Homo sapiens: one gene and its partner. The protein of the gene in region 2 interacts with the protein of the main gene of each other region in a pairwise test. Each region holds a gene or a part of one and is shown on either strand. Other genes may lie near its edges.

Region 1 (7,923 bases), on a different chromosome or scaffold from region 2:
AAATGAGTATACATTCTCTAATTGTGTCACACCCCCAGCAAAAATAAGCCAAAAAACCTTGGCAGTTGCAAGAGCATGTGTTATCTGTGCCATGGTTTGAGTAACCTGGCTGGATGAGCAGCTGGGGAGCTGTTAGAGGAACCTAAGAGGGGACCAGCCACATTTCACAGGGTCTCCTTGACTTTCCATTCACTAGTTCCAGAGAAGCCCAGATCCAATCAGGACACAGTTGCAATCCAGGCTTTCATTACTGATGCATTATCTCAGGTACAAGGAAGGGGAGGAGAAAATGAACAGAGGAGACATCACAGAGGCTACTGCAAAAAAATCTGAATGCCACTCTGCTTTGTCTCAAGACTGAAACAAGGCACAGGAAAACCACGTGGCCTATGGCCTATTCCCATCAGTCAATGGCAAGAGTTTAACAGGAAAAGACAGACAATAAAGAAAATATTCCACAACCCATACAGGATCAAGATGCCCATTACGAGGGAAGGTCTGAGCCTAATGAGATGAGCAATAGCAAGGGCTATGCCCAAAGACCCAGGATGCTGATCCCAATTAGTGAGGGACTGGGAAACTGGTTCAGAGAATGAGCAGGCACTTGGAGAGCTGAGACACAGAAGACAGCTGCTCATGTAATGGAATCTTGGCCTCAGGCAGCAGCAGCAGCAACTACAGCAATACACATGAAAAAGCTGAGTTTGCTTTCACTTCCTTCCCTGCACTTCTCCTCCCAAGCCCTCATTTCCTGGTGCCCTGTGCCACTGCCCACTTTAGGGGTGAAGGAAGACTTGCTATGCCTTTCCTCTCTACCACTGAAAGCACCAATCCTTTCCAAGTCATAGATCCCAGCTGGGTGTTACAAAGAAAATAACATTTCAACTTTTCACGTCATATAACCAGTAGCCCCTTCGATCTCCTATAGACACCCACATTCTTTATTAATGTAGTAAGTCTGGCAGCTCTCCAAGATATACAGCAAATGAAATAAAACCAAAGTAAGGGTTCTAGAATCTCCCTGAGGACACTCAGAACAGGAGCACACCTGCTTTGGCTGATCTGTCTCAATTCTTCCTGTACAAAGAAACCCCAGAAGAACACTGCCTGTCCTTGTCCAAGGTCACAGAACTTTTGCTGGCTTTGCCACTTACTATGTGACTTGGAGCATCAGTTACTCCAAGTCTTAGTTTCCTTGACTATAAAATAGGGAGAAAACTTAGCTTATGAAGTCGTAAGACCACATAGCTTATGAAGATGAGAATGTAAGCTCTATCAGGCAAAGCTCCATTTTGTATGATGTTATTCTCTCGTGCAGAAACAAACAAAATCCAGCAATGCTTGGTACAGAATGGGCAGTGACCTCTCAGAATAGGCTGGCTGACTGAAGAAATGAATAACAGCGCAAACATTAGTACTCAGTAAGCACACCATGTTGCTTCTGCCCTTCACGACTTACTGATTCAAGCCACACTTTAATATAAAAAATCTAAAGTAGACATGAATGAATTAAAAATGAAAGACAGCTTTTCCATTTTCATTTTCTTATCTAAAGAATGGACAGCAAGCCCGTTAAGTGATGGCTTACTTTTATATACGAAAATACTGAAATGGCTATACGAGCAAAAGTTATTTATTAAGACAGCTAGATCTAGACTAAGGTTTCTCAACCTTGGCCCTCTTGATATTTGGGGCCAGCTGATTCTTTGTTGGGGGGCTGTTCTGTACATTGTAGGATGTTTAGGAGCACTCCTGCCCTCTATTCACTTTCCTCTCAGTTGTGACAACCAAAAATGCCTCCAGATATTGGCAAATGTCCCCTGTGGGAAGGGGGGATTGCCCCCCTCCAGTTAAGAACCACTGATGTAGGCACAAGTAAACTTTGGGAAGTTGGGGCTGGTTTAGAGTACTCACTACGTTCTCATGTACTACCTCAATCATCATGACAGGCCTGTGAAACATTATTATATCTTCATCTTACAGATGACAGACTGAGGCTAACAGAGTTAACTTGTTTAGAGTCACAAACCTCAATAAGACGCAAAATAACGACCAGACCCAGGGTGCCTGACTCCCATGCCTACCAGCCTCAGCAGCATACTACACTGCCTCTTCCTTTAGAGGCTTTCCAGACTTTTTTTAAGACACAGTCTCACTCTGTCACCCAGGCTGGAGTGCAGTGGCACAATCTTGGCTCACTGCAACCTTGGCCTCCCAGGCGATCCTACCCACCTCAACCTCCAAAGTCGCTGGTACTACGGGCACCCACCAGCACGTCTGGCTAATGTTTGTATTTTTTTGTAGAGGGAGGTTTTTGCCATGTTGCCCAGGCTGGTCTCGAAGTCCTGAGCTCAAGCAATCCACCCACCTCGGCCTCCCAAAGTGCTGTCACAGGCGTGAACCACCGCACCCAGCCGTGAATTATCTTTTGTTTTTATTTTCTAGGCAAAGGGCCGATTACCTTTCATTTTCCCTTCATGCATCGGGCATCCTGAAGGTGGGGACGCTGAAGCATTTGAGGCCTGAACTGCAACAGCAGGAGCAGATGGAGACAAACCCATGGCTGGAAACAGTGTTGACTGTAAACAATTTTAAATTTCCACCTGCCAAAACAAAGAGACAGATTAATGTCTCTGGACTCAGACTATTCTCTCGTTAGTCCTAATCTGGTCAACCCTTGTTCCTCCTCTTTGTCATCCCATGGGCATCTACCAGGCAGGGTACTAACTTCGAAGGACAGCTTTAATATATTGCCCCCTTAGGGAAATACTGTGAAACCCAGGCCAACCTCTGGGGGCACGTATGTATCTAAGGCAGTGAGGATTTTGGGACTGAGGTGAGGCAGTCGCTGAGAAACCACGTCACAGCCAGGAGGTACAGGCCTGAGGCGGGAGTGGGGCGAGGATTTCCGAGGAGTGGTGACCCGGGTGGAGGAGGGGAGGTCCATTGAGCCTAGACTTGACCCCCATCCCCAGAGCCTTAGCGAGGGGCTGGGGGTCCGAGAAGGGTGCGGCGCATGAATAGGAATTCGAAGAAACGAAGGGACACCAGAGGTCGAGAAGCTGCCAAGTGTCTTCCCCACACCGTCCCGGCGCTTGCCCACCTGCTCCAGCCCGTGGTCCCCAGACCAAACCGGCCGCGGCCAGCCTGCCCTTCTGCACCTAAGCCCTCCCCCGGGCTGTTCCGGGAGGCCGGTACCGCCTTCAGTCGCCAACCCGAACCCAGAGCAGCAGTGACTTCACGCCGCCGCCGCCGCCGCCGCCGCCTTCCTCTCACTCGGTCACCGCTGTGGCTGCGGTCACCGCCGGCGTTCTCACGCACCCCTACTTCCTTTTTAGAAGGCGGGACTTCCGGGCACGCGGGAGGCGGGCTGAAGAGTAATATTTTCCGTCAATCACGGAGAGCGGGTTCCGTCCCCTCCTCGCCCCGGCCTGTAACTGCTGCGGGGGCCGCTTTCTGGGCCCGCCCCTCCAGGCCAGGAGCCTTTTTCAAAATGTGGCGGTGGCAGGGAAGGTTGTCTGCTCCAGAGGCTTCCCTAGAGTGAAGAGCTCTACTATGTATGCTTTATGCGGCAGAAGGAGTGCTTTGGAGGAGTTTTTAAATTTGTTTTTTTTTTAAATCTTATCGGTTTTAATTGTAGCAATGATTCAAGAAACGTTAGTAGGTGCCCATAACTTCGGTGGTGGAGATCCAAAAGTGAACAAGACAGTGTTCTGGCTGCTAAATTCTTCTTAACTGGGTATGTGATTTTGAATGTCTGTATTTTCATTTACCTCCAACAGAAATTTAGCATTTTCTTCCATCAGGGATGTAGGCAATAAATCCTAGTACTATTAGCTGTATGTGGCACTAATACACATTACAGATAAATTATGTCACATATGGTTGTTGTGCCTGTCTCAAAATATCATCCATCCACTACTTTGAAATTAAGGTAATTTGATCTTGTTACTTAAAGTGTTAATAAAGAAACATATATCTTTCTATATAACTATAGTGGCTCTGTGAAATACGTCCAGATGTCCCCTGGTGCAGAAAGTGTTGGGGGCTCACAGCTTTCAGCTGAGTCTCCAGGAATTGTCCTCTGCCTAAGAGAATTGCCTCACACAAAATCACTTCCCCTCCTTGGGGACGATCTGCATCCTATGAGGGTCTCTGCAAGGGCACATAAGTCCAGGCCCCTAGCCCCAAAGGGGACAACTCAGAAGGGCCATCCCAGCATCAGAACTGCCTACAGGATAGCCCAAGGATTCCATTTCAACTATCACAGCTCAACTTCTCTCTTTACCCACAATTCTTTTGTCCCTCCCACAATTCCTTTTCACTCCCGCAATTCTGTTTTGTTACCCACAGTTCTGTCTCCCACAATTCTCAGTTCTTTCCACAATCTTCTGTCTCTCCCACAATTCCTTATTTCTCCCACAATCCCATGTCACTCCCAAAATTCTATTCCTTCCCACAATTCATTTTTCTGTCCCACAATTCCTTGTCTTGCTCACAATTCTCTTGTTTCTCCCATGATTCCTTGTGTCTCCCACAATTCACTTTTCTGTCCCACAATTCCCTGTCTTGCCCGTAATTCTGTTGTTTTTCCCAAAATTTGCTGGGTTTCCCAGCAAGCCTTTATTCTTTCCTACAAATTCTTGTATCTCTCAAAATTCTGTTTCCCACAGTTCCATTCCTCCCACAGTTCTCTGTCTTTTCCATCATTCCCTATGACTCTGTCTGTCACAATTCCTCAAAATTATTCATTTCCACAATGTTCTGTTCATTCACAATACTCTGTTCTTATTCCCCAGTCTCTCCCATAATTCCCCATTATCTCTCATAATTCTGTTCTTTCACAATATTCTTTTTCATGATTTCCTTTCTCCCACAATTCTCCCTTCATTCTCATAATTATTCCGTCTCTCCCACAACACTGTATTCTCTCCCATGGTTCCCTGTATCTCCCAGAACTCTCTGTTCTCTCCCCCAATTTCCTGTCTCTCCCTGAGTTCTCTGTTCTCCCACAATTCCCTGTGTCTCCCATAATTCCATGTTTCTCCCCACAATTTTTGGTTTCCTCTCACAATTCTCTGTTCTCTCCCACAATTCCTTATCTCAACCATAATTCTGTATTCTATGCTACAATTTCCTATCTTTCCTATAATTCCCCATCTCCCCCACAATTCTTTGTTCTTTCGCAGAATTCTCCACTCTTACAATTCTCCATTCCCTCAAAATACTCCATGATTGTTCACAATTCCCCAGTCTCTCCCCTAACTCCCATTCTCTCTCATAATTCTGTTTTCTCACAATATTCTCGTTCACAATTTTCTATCCCACAAGTGTCCCTTTTCTCCCACAATTTTGTGTCTCTTCCACAATTTTTTGTTCTCTCCCACAATCCTGTGTCTCTCCCACAATTCTTTGTGCTGTCCTCTCCACAAATCTATGTCTCTCCCACAATTCTGCTCTCTCCCACAATTCTGTGTCATATGCTACAATTTCCTGTCTTTCTCATAATTCCACATCTCTCTCCTAATTCTTTCTTCTCTCTGATAATTCTTCACTTTCACTCACAGTCCTCCATTCTCTTAAAATTCTCCATCCTCATTTGCAATTCTGTAGTCTCTCCCCTAACTCCTTAGTCTCCCTCATCATTCTGTTCTCTCACAATACTCTATTCTCTTACACAATTTCCCATCTCTCCCACAATAATCTCTTCTCTTTCATAATTCTCCCTTCTCTCCCACAATTCCCCGTGTGTCCACAATTTTGTGTCACTCCCACAATTCTCTGTTTTTTCCTACAATTCCTGATGTCTTCCCCCTTTCTTTATTATCTCCCACAATTCCCTGTCTCACCTACAAGTCTCTGTTCTTTCCCATAATTCCTTGTCTTTCCCATAATTCCTCGTATCTCCTACAATTCTTTGCTCTGTCTCACAATTCTCCACTCTTGCACTTCTCCCTTATTACACAATATTCTGTTCTCTTTCACAGCTGCCTAGTCTGTCTCCCAATTCCACATTGTCTCTCACAATTCTCTGTTCTCTCATGATACTTTATTCTCTCCCGCAATTCTCCCTTCTCCCACAATTCCCTATCTCTCCTATCATTTTCTGTTCTCTACCACAATTCTCAGTTCCCTTTCACAATTTCTCAGAAGACCCAAGCCTGGTCCTGTAACTTCAGTGTTTCAGGGCCCAAGGGGAAGAACATGCCCAGATGAGTGGTATGTGATCAGGAGGAAGGGGTATGGTGGGAGGGTTTGTGGTTATAATGAGAGCAGGTGTCAGGAAAGGTGTGACTAAGGGGGAGCACAAAAGACCAATTATTTGTTTTTTTCTACAATTCCTGAGTTCTTCCACTTAATTCCGTATTATAGCACTTGACAAAAGATTTGCAGTTATGTATTTGAATGTGTAATTCTCTTACCTATGTATGGATTTTCTGAAGTTAAAAAATAGATCTTATTTGGCTTTATATCCGCTATATCAGCACAACTCAAAATGTGTCTTGCCAGTGGGGACCAGTTCACACACTGTTACCCTTCTAATATGAGATGAGGAGCTTTCACCACAAGGCAAGGCAAAGCATTGCTTGCCTCATCCAGAAAGTCTTACTATGAAAAATGTCTCATCTCAGATAAAATTGTGCTTAGTGGCATAGCAGATTTATATTATAGTACAAGATTCTTAATTCAGTGTTGGCCAATAACTAGCAGTTTCTGGACTGGCACTTGGGTAGCACTGCCCTATCATTACAGTGTAGTTTCTGTTGTATAATTGAGTGCTCACTGAAGCAGTCAGAAGCAGACACTGGAAGGGATCACAGAGTCAATGAATCTTGAATGAGTGATGTTTCACTCATTCAGCAATATTTATGGAGCACCTATGATGTGTCAGGTACTGTGGGAAGTGCTGAGAATTTAAAAGTGCTAGACAGACTCCTTGCTCTCAGGGAATTTACATTCTAGTAAATGAATAGATTGGACAACAAACAATCCAACACAAACAGATAAATAAATAATTTAAGATCCTGATAAAAGCCACCAATTAAATGACACAGGTAGTGTGACAAAGATTGAGGCATGGGGGTCTACCCACCCCTGTGGGTAGATGATCTGTGGAGCAGAAAATTTGTATTCCTCGGGAGCTTGTTAGAAATGCAGAATTTCAAGTCCCTCCCCAGAACCACTGAGTCAAAGTCTGTCTTGTAACATGATCCCCAGATGATCAGTGTGCACGATACAGATTGAGAGCTCAGGATACCTTCTCAGATATGGTTGTCAGCAAAGACCTCTCTGAGAAGGGTGACGTTTTAGCTGAGACCTGAATGTTGAGAAGGACCCAGCCATGTGAAGATCAATGCAAAGAGTGGTCCAGACAATGAGAATGCCATGGTAAAATGTTCTGAGATCAGAAAGAACAGGGAAAGACCAGTGTGGCCCACACAGAATGAGTTGGGGGCAGAATAGTAGGAGGTGATGTTGGGGCTGGATCATGCCATAGGCCATGAGGAGGAAGTGACATTTTCTTTTAATTGAAATGTGAAGCCATGGAAGGGTTTTTAAAAAGAAGAATTATTTGATCTGACAATAGAGATAGCTTGTTTTTCTCAACTTTGCTCTTCACCACTTTCTAGTTATGCCTGGAGACCTTCACTTGGTTCTGTGCCAGCACTGCCCATGAACTTCATAGACTGTGATCTTTGCTAAGGCCTAAATGAATGAAGGTAAGTTCCTAAGACATAGCCAGTAGACCCCCCACCAATAGGTCTGTGTTCCATGGAGTCTGCCAGCATTCATCACATGTGTACTCAGAGGGACCGTGTCTACATCAAAGGCCAGGGTTACCTCTTGCTCTTGGAAATAAACACTACTTTTCCTTAAAGGGATTTATTGCCAATAAAATTAGAGATGGCCAGAGGTTATCAT
Region 2 (8,345 bases):
CAATTACAGACACATTAAAGAAGTCTGTTTCTCCTAAAATTTTTCCCTTAATAAACGGCTCAAGCCAAAACCTTGGAGTCATCCTTAACTCATCTTTCTCTCATACCTCACAGCCAATCCAACAGCCAATACTGGATAATTTGGAACCTTCACTGCTACCACTGTAATCTAAGTTACAATCGCCTTTTACGTGTATTATGGCCACAGCTCCTTCATTGGTCTCCTTAATGCCCCTGAAACTTCAGTCTTTGTACTTCTTCCTGCTGCCTGAAATACTTTTATTCCAAAAAAAACTAGGTCTGTCACTTCCTTGAGGTCTCTTGAATTTCATCCTATTAGAAAGACTTGCCCTGACCATCCTATCTATACACGATACTAATGTTAGAAAATACTAATAAAGATATTAACAACCACCATCTCTGCGTTATTCTATTCTTCTGGCCATGATTTTTATCACCACCTGATGTATTTACAAGCTTATCTTCCGCTACAATGTAAGCTTCAGGAGGGCAGACACTTTGCTGATTTTATTCACTGCTGTATCACCAGTGTCCACAGTAGCCACAAGCAGACATCAGACATGCAGTAGACACTTAAATATTTAAAACTGAAAAGAAAATTATTTGATGGCTAACAGATTAGCATAAAATTTAAAACTTTTTCCTAAAGAATTTGAAACAAGGAATTAAAATTCTTTGGGAAGTACACATTTTGAGAGCTTTGCTAGATTTAATTTTTTAAATTGAGTCTATCCACAATTTAAATCAGACTAAATTCTAGTAAATGTGTCCTCTTTAAGGGGTGTGAGTTATACGTCTGAAACATATTTAACTGTATTTAAAAGAGTAGCATTATACAGTGTCAAATCCTCATAAGCATCTAGAATTATAGGTAATGAGCACTAGGACAAACAAAAATACCAAGGGCTCTAGTCCTCTATTGCAGTCAATGTTAAAAGTGTACAAGTGTCTCACACATCAAAATTCATTTCACACCCTCAATCACTCATTCTTCTTGCACCTTGTCTTTGAACTATTAGAAGCTAGTGAATTTAAATCAAAACATTATTTTAACTATAAAGGCTCAACGTCTACAATATATCATATTTTAGGGAAGGAAGGGAAGAAAAGGGTTAAGGCAGCTAGCTTATTACTCACCATGCAGATTTTAGAACTTAGAAATCAAAAGCTAGAAGGAATTTACCATCTCTAAAGTGTTACTTGCTTGTTGATATGGAAATGCTCAGATTGAACCAGATGATTTTTAAGGTCTCTCTAGGCCACAGCATTCTATTATTCTAGCTATCTTAAATCTGGAATGCTTATCCCGGAAGAAAAAGCAGCTGGGAGTACTAGGTCAGACAGCACCTGGTTATTTACTAGTTGTGCAAGTTTCTTAACCTCAGTAAGGCTGCTTCCTCACATATATAAAAGGGGTTAATAACATCTATCTGGCAAAGTTATGGAAAAGACTGGAGATAATATGTCAAATGCATTACAAAGTGCTTGACAGGTTTTTCATAATATAGGCAGCTATTACCTTGCTCTAGCTCTACTACTCTTTTGCCAGGGATAGTGCAATGTAGGATCAACTGTGCCAACAAAATTGGGGCAAAGGCAAGGAAAGTAGTAAAGCCACAGAACAGATTTACATTTCAGCACCAATTTGGTATGCATATTAGAAAATTATTTTTGTTTTCTTTTTACAAAAGAGAATGTTGTTGCTACCGTGACCGTAAACACCAGATTGTTTATAATTCATGTTGTGAAATTTACATCTGTTCACAGATTTACTGAGTTGGCATAACATGGGTGATGACTGTGGGAAACGGCCCAAGTTCCTTAGTACTGACACTTCCTTGATTGTAGAATATCGAGAGGTAGTCAACTTTTCCCCTTAAAGTATATTTAAAACATACTACTGTGACTACAGCCATAACAATATCCCCGCATCTCTCCTTGATCTACAGCTGGTGCTTCCCATTTTGAAAAAGAGTGAAAACCCCCCAACCCTAGGTTTCTTGTGGTCTTGGCAAAGTCTCAACGCCAACTGGCGATCTCCATTTCCCCCGCGGGCTGCCAAGCCCAGGACAGTCCTTTCAGGGAGAAAGAGGGCCGGAGGGAACTGTGTTGGCAGCTCTCTGGGTTGAAGGACAGGAAAAGGAAACTCCCTTCTTGGACTCCGAGGGGAGGGTGAGAGACGAAAGGAAAGGGTGGGGGGTAGTGCAAGAATGGCCTGTGTCTCGGTTACCGCAAAGGACTCGCAAGCCTCCGCCAGCCCCGGGGTGGAGGCCACAGGAGCACTGACGTCGTGGTATCAGAAAGGCGGACAGTGCAGCCTTAGTGTTCCCCAGGGGTGGGAGGAAGCTCCCGGCCCCGTCCCCACCCCGCCTCGCTTCCCAGGGAGCGGCGGTTGGGCAGGAGCGGGGCAGAAATCCGCCGCCGGGCCCGGGGAGGGGACCAGGCCGCGCCCATCTCCCAGGCCTCTGGCTGCAGCAGGCCCGCTGGGTGGTCGGCGAGGCCCGGGGGCGCCGCGTCGAGCTGCGGTCCCCTCCCTCAACCTTCCCGGGCGCCGCCACCCCTTTTCCCCCCAGCACCAGGGTACCTGCACGGCGCGACTGAGGAAGGTGCCTGCGTCGGCCGCCAGCTTCTTCACGTTGAAGTCCATGATATTCATCCTAGGCGGCAGCCGGGCGGAGCCGGCCGACCTAGCGGCGGCGAGGCGGAGGTGCCGCGGCCGGGCTGGGGCGCAGGGCTAGAGCGGCGAGGGCAGACGTGGTAGGTGGAGGGAGGCGGCGCCAGCCCCGCAGCCGCAGCTGTCGTTTCCGTGAACGGGGAGGATGAAGGCGGGGCGAGGGAGGAGAACAAGCGCGCGGCGGCAGCGCCAAGGATGGGTCAGTCGGCTCGGAGAACGGCCGCTAACGTCGACGATGGGCCCCGCGGGCGAGCCGGAGATGGACGGGCGACCCCGCCGTGTGGACCCGGGTCCCAAGGGAAAAACAAGCGCGGGCCGCGGGGCGGAGCCTTTCTCGAGGTTATCGCGGGAACAGCGACCCCTTGAGGATTGCGGCGGCGCAGCCCCGGGGCGCGCCGGGAGCTCCGCCCGGCTCCTGTGGAGGAAGCGGCGAGGGCGAGCCGCGGGGTCTCGGCGCCTCTGTATGCTTGCACTTAACGAGAACCCAGAGCGAACACGACCCACATTTCTCTTTTTGTTTTAAGAGGAAATATAGGAGTTACAGCATAGAATTACAATATCTGGACATTAGAAATAACAGGTCCCGGTCACGGTATGGCACCGCGCGACACACTTGGTCCCTGAGGCCTGGATGCCGCTCAGCAAACGTTCGCGGAATAGGGTTGGGTTTACTGTCCCCCACCGAGCCGGTTGCTCATTCATTCAGCATAATTGAATACCTCCTGTGTGCCAGGCACTGAATCAAGTGTCGGAGACAATGTCCTGCCCTCAAGCTCCTGGCCGGTTACTTGACAACCTTCCGGGACCTCAACGCTATGTGCCTACTGTGTGAAAGCAAAGTGCCAGGTGGAGGACACAAAGATGGCGAGCGACACAGGATAGTCCTTAACAATTAAGCGTGACTAATTTTAATAACAAATGAGAATATGATGTGACATCCGTTCCAAATCCTGTCGTTCCAAGTAACTTCTTAAGCATCTTTCACGATACAGCCTCTGCTTGAAAGGAATTAAAACAGGTACAAGCATGGAAGGAGACGTTGCTATCATATTTCAAGAATAAGAAAATGCTGTTTTGTGTGGTTGTGCAGCAGGCAATGAAATGAGCTTACATTCAAGCTTCCGTGTTTTACTGAAACAACAGTCACAGATGCAGTAGATGTTAAAGGTTGAAAGACGAGTGCAGTAAAAGCATTATGAGGACAAGAAGAAAACGTAAATATTTGTGTTGTTTCATTCTTTGTTGTGGTGGCAGAAACAGCCCCCTCTTTCTAAGGTAACTCCAATATAATGATCTCTCCCAGCTTTGAAATACTCCATGTCTGTTTCATTTTCCAGAAATATGGAAAAATGAATATATAATAAAAAACCCTATTTCTCATTTATTGTCTATTTTAGATCTTTATGTGGAAAAGCACTTACTCTCTTCCCAGAGCACTGTTTTTAAAGTAGGTATATTTGCCATAACCTATGCTCGTCTCTACAAAAGGATCACACCACCGTGTCCACCATTAAAGGGGAAATTCTTTAATGGTGGACACAGTGGTGTCCCTGAATCCTCATCCTCAAGTGTTTCAATCTTCCCAGTCTTGGGAAAACAACAATGTTACTTCTTTCTTTTGCACCCTCTGTAGCTGTAATCCTGTTTCCCCATTCTCCATAAAAGACTTACCTTATTTTCATATATCCTTATTCTTAGCCTTTGACACTTTTTTTTTTGAGACAGAGTTTTGCTGTGTCACCCAGGCTGGAGTGCAATGGTGTGATCTCAGCTCACTGCAACCTCTGCCTCCTGGGTTCAAGGATTCTCCTGCCTCAGCCTTCCAAGTAGCTGGGATTACAAGCATGCATCACCACGCCCGGCTAATTTTTTATATCTTTAGTAGAGACAGAGTTTCACCATGTGGGCCAGGCTGGTCTCGAACTCCTGGCCTCAAGTGATCCGCCTGCCACAGCCTCCCAAAGTGCTGGGATGACAGGTGTGAGCCACCGCACCCAGCTGATTCGCTTTCTTTACAGAGAAAATATAAATCATCACTCTGTTTGGCAGAAGCCTCTTCAACCAAATTTCCTTATTTCCACCTCCTGTTCTCTCCACACTCTTTCCTGCATCATTGCCAAATGTTTCAAAGGAATAGGTGTCTCAGGTGTTCTGAGTAGAGCCACTGCTCCCTTAATCTTGGCTGCACATCAGCATCACCTGGAGAGTTTAAGCAACCACTGATGCCTGGATCCAGTCCCAGAGTGTGGACTGGGCATTGGGATGTTTTAGGAGTTCCTCTAGGTGTTCTTAATGTGTGACCAAGGTTGAGAACTAATTTGTCACCCTCTAGAACTTGCTCCATCAGTCTCTACCCTTTGCCTACAGACTGATTCTACTTCTCTTACCAGATATCAGTCCCTTAAGGGCAGTGTCCGTTTCCTATTTATTTTTATATATTTTATGGTTTACACAGGCAACATAGTGAATTCCCAAATGATTTAGTAAGTGAAAAAAGTAATCAAATCAAGATGTTTACAGTGCTAAGCTCTTTTGTGACACCATCACCCCCAGCCTAAATTTCCAACTATTTATCCATAGATTCAATATTTCCAGTGGCAAGTCTGTTATAGTTTGCTTTTCCTGAAAATTCTTCTTTTCTTGGGTTTCCTACATTGATAAATTGAATCATACACACCAAATCACCTAAGCCAGAAATCTGAGTCCCCTTTGATTATTTCCTCTTATTTCCCACCACCAATTGGTCTATCCTGGCAATTTCTTCTCTGAAACTGTTTCCTATTTTTCATTTTCATCCTCTTTTTAAAAACAAATTTTTTAACTTGAAACAATTTACAAACTAAGAAAACTGTTGCAAGAATAGTACAAAAACTTCTGTGTACCCTTTGCCTAGAAACCCCACTCAAACTTTGCCAATTATTCCAATGTCTTTACAGCAAAAACGTCCCAGCCAAGAAAGATCATGTGCTGCATCCAGTTAGCTTGTTGCTCAATTCTCCTTCAGTCTGGATCAATTATTCAGGCTTTTCTTGACACTATTCCTTCCCCAGAGTTAGCCACTATTTTTAAATTGGTATGATTAATATCTGTTATGTTTTTGTACTTTCACTGAATTTATATGTATCTATGAATGGTACTACTATGTTATATTTTTAAACTGCATAAATGATATCATATAGATAAATCCTTTTGCATTTAGGGGTCTAATACTTCTATTTGTGTATTTGATGACCTTTTTGTTTGTGGATTGATTCCTTTTGCTTTGTACATTGATTCCTTTTAGCTTTTTTTTTTATGGCTCATTTTTAGTGATACAGAAAAAAATGTTTCTTCTGTCAGAGACCCCTAAGGTTATCACTGGCTAGTGAGCAATTTTTACATGAATTTCTTTCTTGGCTTAGAAGTTCTAAGATCATTCAGATATTATAAATTTGAACCCAGATTTGTGGGAGTACAAACTATGATTCAAATTCTCAAGGGAGAGAGATCTTCCTTGTTTTTTTCTCTTTCAGAGCTTGTGCCTTGACAGAAAAGCTTCTTACTATGCCAGAAGAAAAGCTTCTATCTAGTCTACCCTTTCATTGAGGGTACAGAATTTCATGGGTTTTTAACTTATGTGTGTGTGTGAGGTCATGAAGTTGGGGGACAGGGTGTGCTCACAGTTAACTGATTTCTGTTTGCACCAAGGGCCCAAGGTCTTATCACAAGTTACCGTGTATTTTTAAAAATTATAAAGGCCAGGCGCGGTGGCTCATGCCTATAATCCCAGCACTTTGGGAGGCTGAGGTGGGTGGATAACTTGAGGTCAGGAGTTCAAGACCAGCCTGGCCAACATGGTGAAACCCTGTCTCTACTAAAAATACAAAAATTAGCCGGGTGTGGTGGTGGGTGCTTGTAATCCCAGGTACTCGGGAGGCTGAGGCAGGAGAATCACTTAAACCGAGGAGGTTGCAGTGAGCTGAGATCACGCCATTGCATTCCAGCTTGGGCAACAAGAGCGAAACTCCATCTTAAAAAAAAAATTAATGAAAATTGACAAATGATAATTGTATATACTGTATTGTATACAACCTGATTTGTAATATGTATACATCTTGGAATGGCTAAATTGAGTGACTTAACATATGTATTACGTCACATACTTATTTTTATGGTGAGAACACTTAAAGTCTGTTCTTAGTGATTTTGAAGAATACAACATGTTGTTAACTATAGTCACTATGTTGTACAATAGATCTCTTGAACTTATTCCTCCTATGTAACTGAAATTGTATATCCTTTGACCAGCGTCATCCAGCTCCCTCACTCTCTCCCAGCCCTTGCTAACCACCATTCCACTCTTTGCTTCTATTGAGTTCAACTTTTTTAGATTCCATATTTAAGTGAGATCATGCAATATTCATCTTTCTGGGCCTGGCTTATTTCACTTAACATAATGTCTTTAAGGTTCATCTATGTTGTCACAAATGACAGGATTTCCTTCTTTTTAGAGGCTGAATAGTTTTCCATTGTATACATATATCACATTTTTAAAATCCATTTATCACCTCATGGATTTAAACATTCAAGCACCATCCTCATTCAATCCTTTCTCCTCTCCAGACAGGGTCATATTCTGTATTCAAGACCCTGGTGTCCAGTTTCTTTTTTTATTTTTGCCACCTGAATATTTCCCTGTCTTTTTTTTTGTAAGCTCAAGTATGCATTATTATTAATTAATTAATTTATTTTGCTGCATTTTACCCAGCATTTCTAAGTATTTGTAGTAGAAGAGTTTTCATGTTATCTAGTCTGTATTGATTAAGGACTGCTTATGTTCAGCTCAAGTAACAGAAACCTAGCTGTAGTGACTTACCCAAATACTGATTTATTTTCTCACCCTCTAAGAAGTTCAGAGGTAGGCAGTCTTCTGTGTTTTTGTTTTTCTATTCTTATCATGTAGCTTTCATCCTAATGTCTCAAGATGGCTCCTGTAATTCTAGGCATTAAATATGTTTTTAAGGCAGAAAAAGGATGAAAAGTAAAGGCAAAAGTACATGCCAACTGAGTCTACTTCTTACTCCTTAAATCAAGAAAACAGCTTTTTCATAAACCCCACGTAGTAAACTTTGGTTTACATCTCATTAGCTAGAACTGGGTCGTTTAGTTCTCCGTAAATGCATTAGAGACTGATAAATGAAATGTGCCCTGTTGAAAAATAAGTATTTCAATTTTTTATATCTTTAAAAAAATCTATATCAAAAATACATATATATGTATCTATATATCTATATATATCTATATATAGATACATATAAATTCAGTTGAAAGTATACAATCATAATAGAAATTAGTATTTTATTTTTAAATCTTTCTTTATTTCTTAAACAGCACTTACTGTCATCCTGAACAAAAATGGGGTTTCTGTTAGCAAGGCAGAAAGAGAATAGTTATAGGGTAAGCAACTATCAATGTCTGCCATGCTGCTGTAAGGCAAGAATTGAAAGTCTCCCATGCTCACTGAAACTTCCTTTCAGTTTTTAGACTGATAAACAGGGCCACTTACATAATTCGCAGGGACCAATGCAAAACGAAAATATGGAGCCCTTTGTTCAAGAGCAAAAGGAAAGTGCTGTTTAAAGGTATTAAAATAAAACTTTTTCCTTTATTTT

The links.
Region 1: the proteins of SH3GLB1 (region 2) and HCCS interact in binary tests that used the Homo sapiens proteins (3 or more experiments, as listed by UniProt).

Annotation. Positions count from the first base shown.
Region 1 is NC_000023.11:11,106,699-11,114,621, reverse strand, and holds the start of HCCS (holocytochrome c-type synthase), read right to left. Parts: upstream 3,291-7,923; 5' UTR 3,104-3,290; intron 2,604-3,103; 5' UTR 2,562-2,603; coding exon 2,462-2,561; intron 1-2,461. UniProt on the Homo sapiens protein: Lyase that catalyzes the covalent linking of the heme group to the cytochrome C apoprotein to produce the mature functional cytochrome.
Region 2 is NC_000001.11:86,699,231-86,707,575, reverse strand, and holds the start of SH3GLB1 (endophilin-B1), read right to left. Parts: upstream 3,001-8,345; 5' UTR 2,677-3,000; coding exon 2,605-2,676; intron 1-2,604. UniProt on the Homo sapiens protein: May be required for normal outer mitochondrial membrane dynamics. Required for coatomer-mediated retrograde transport in certain cells. May recruit other proteins to membranes with high curvature. May promote membrane fusion.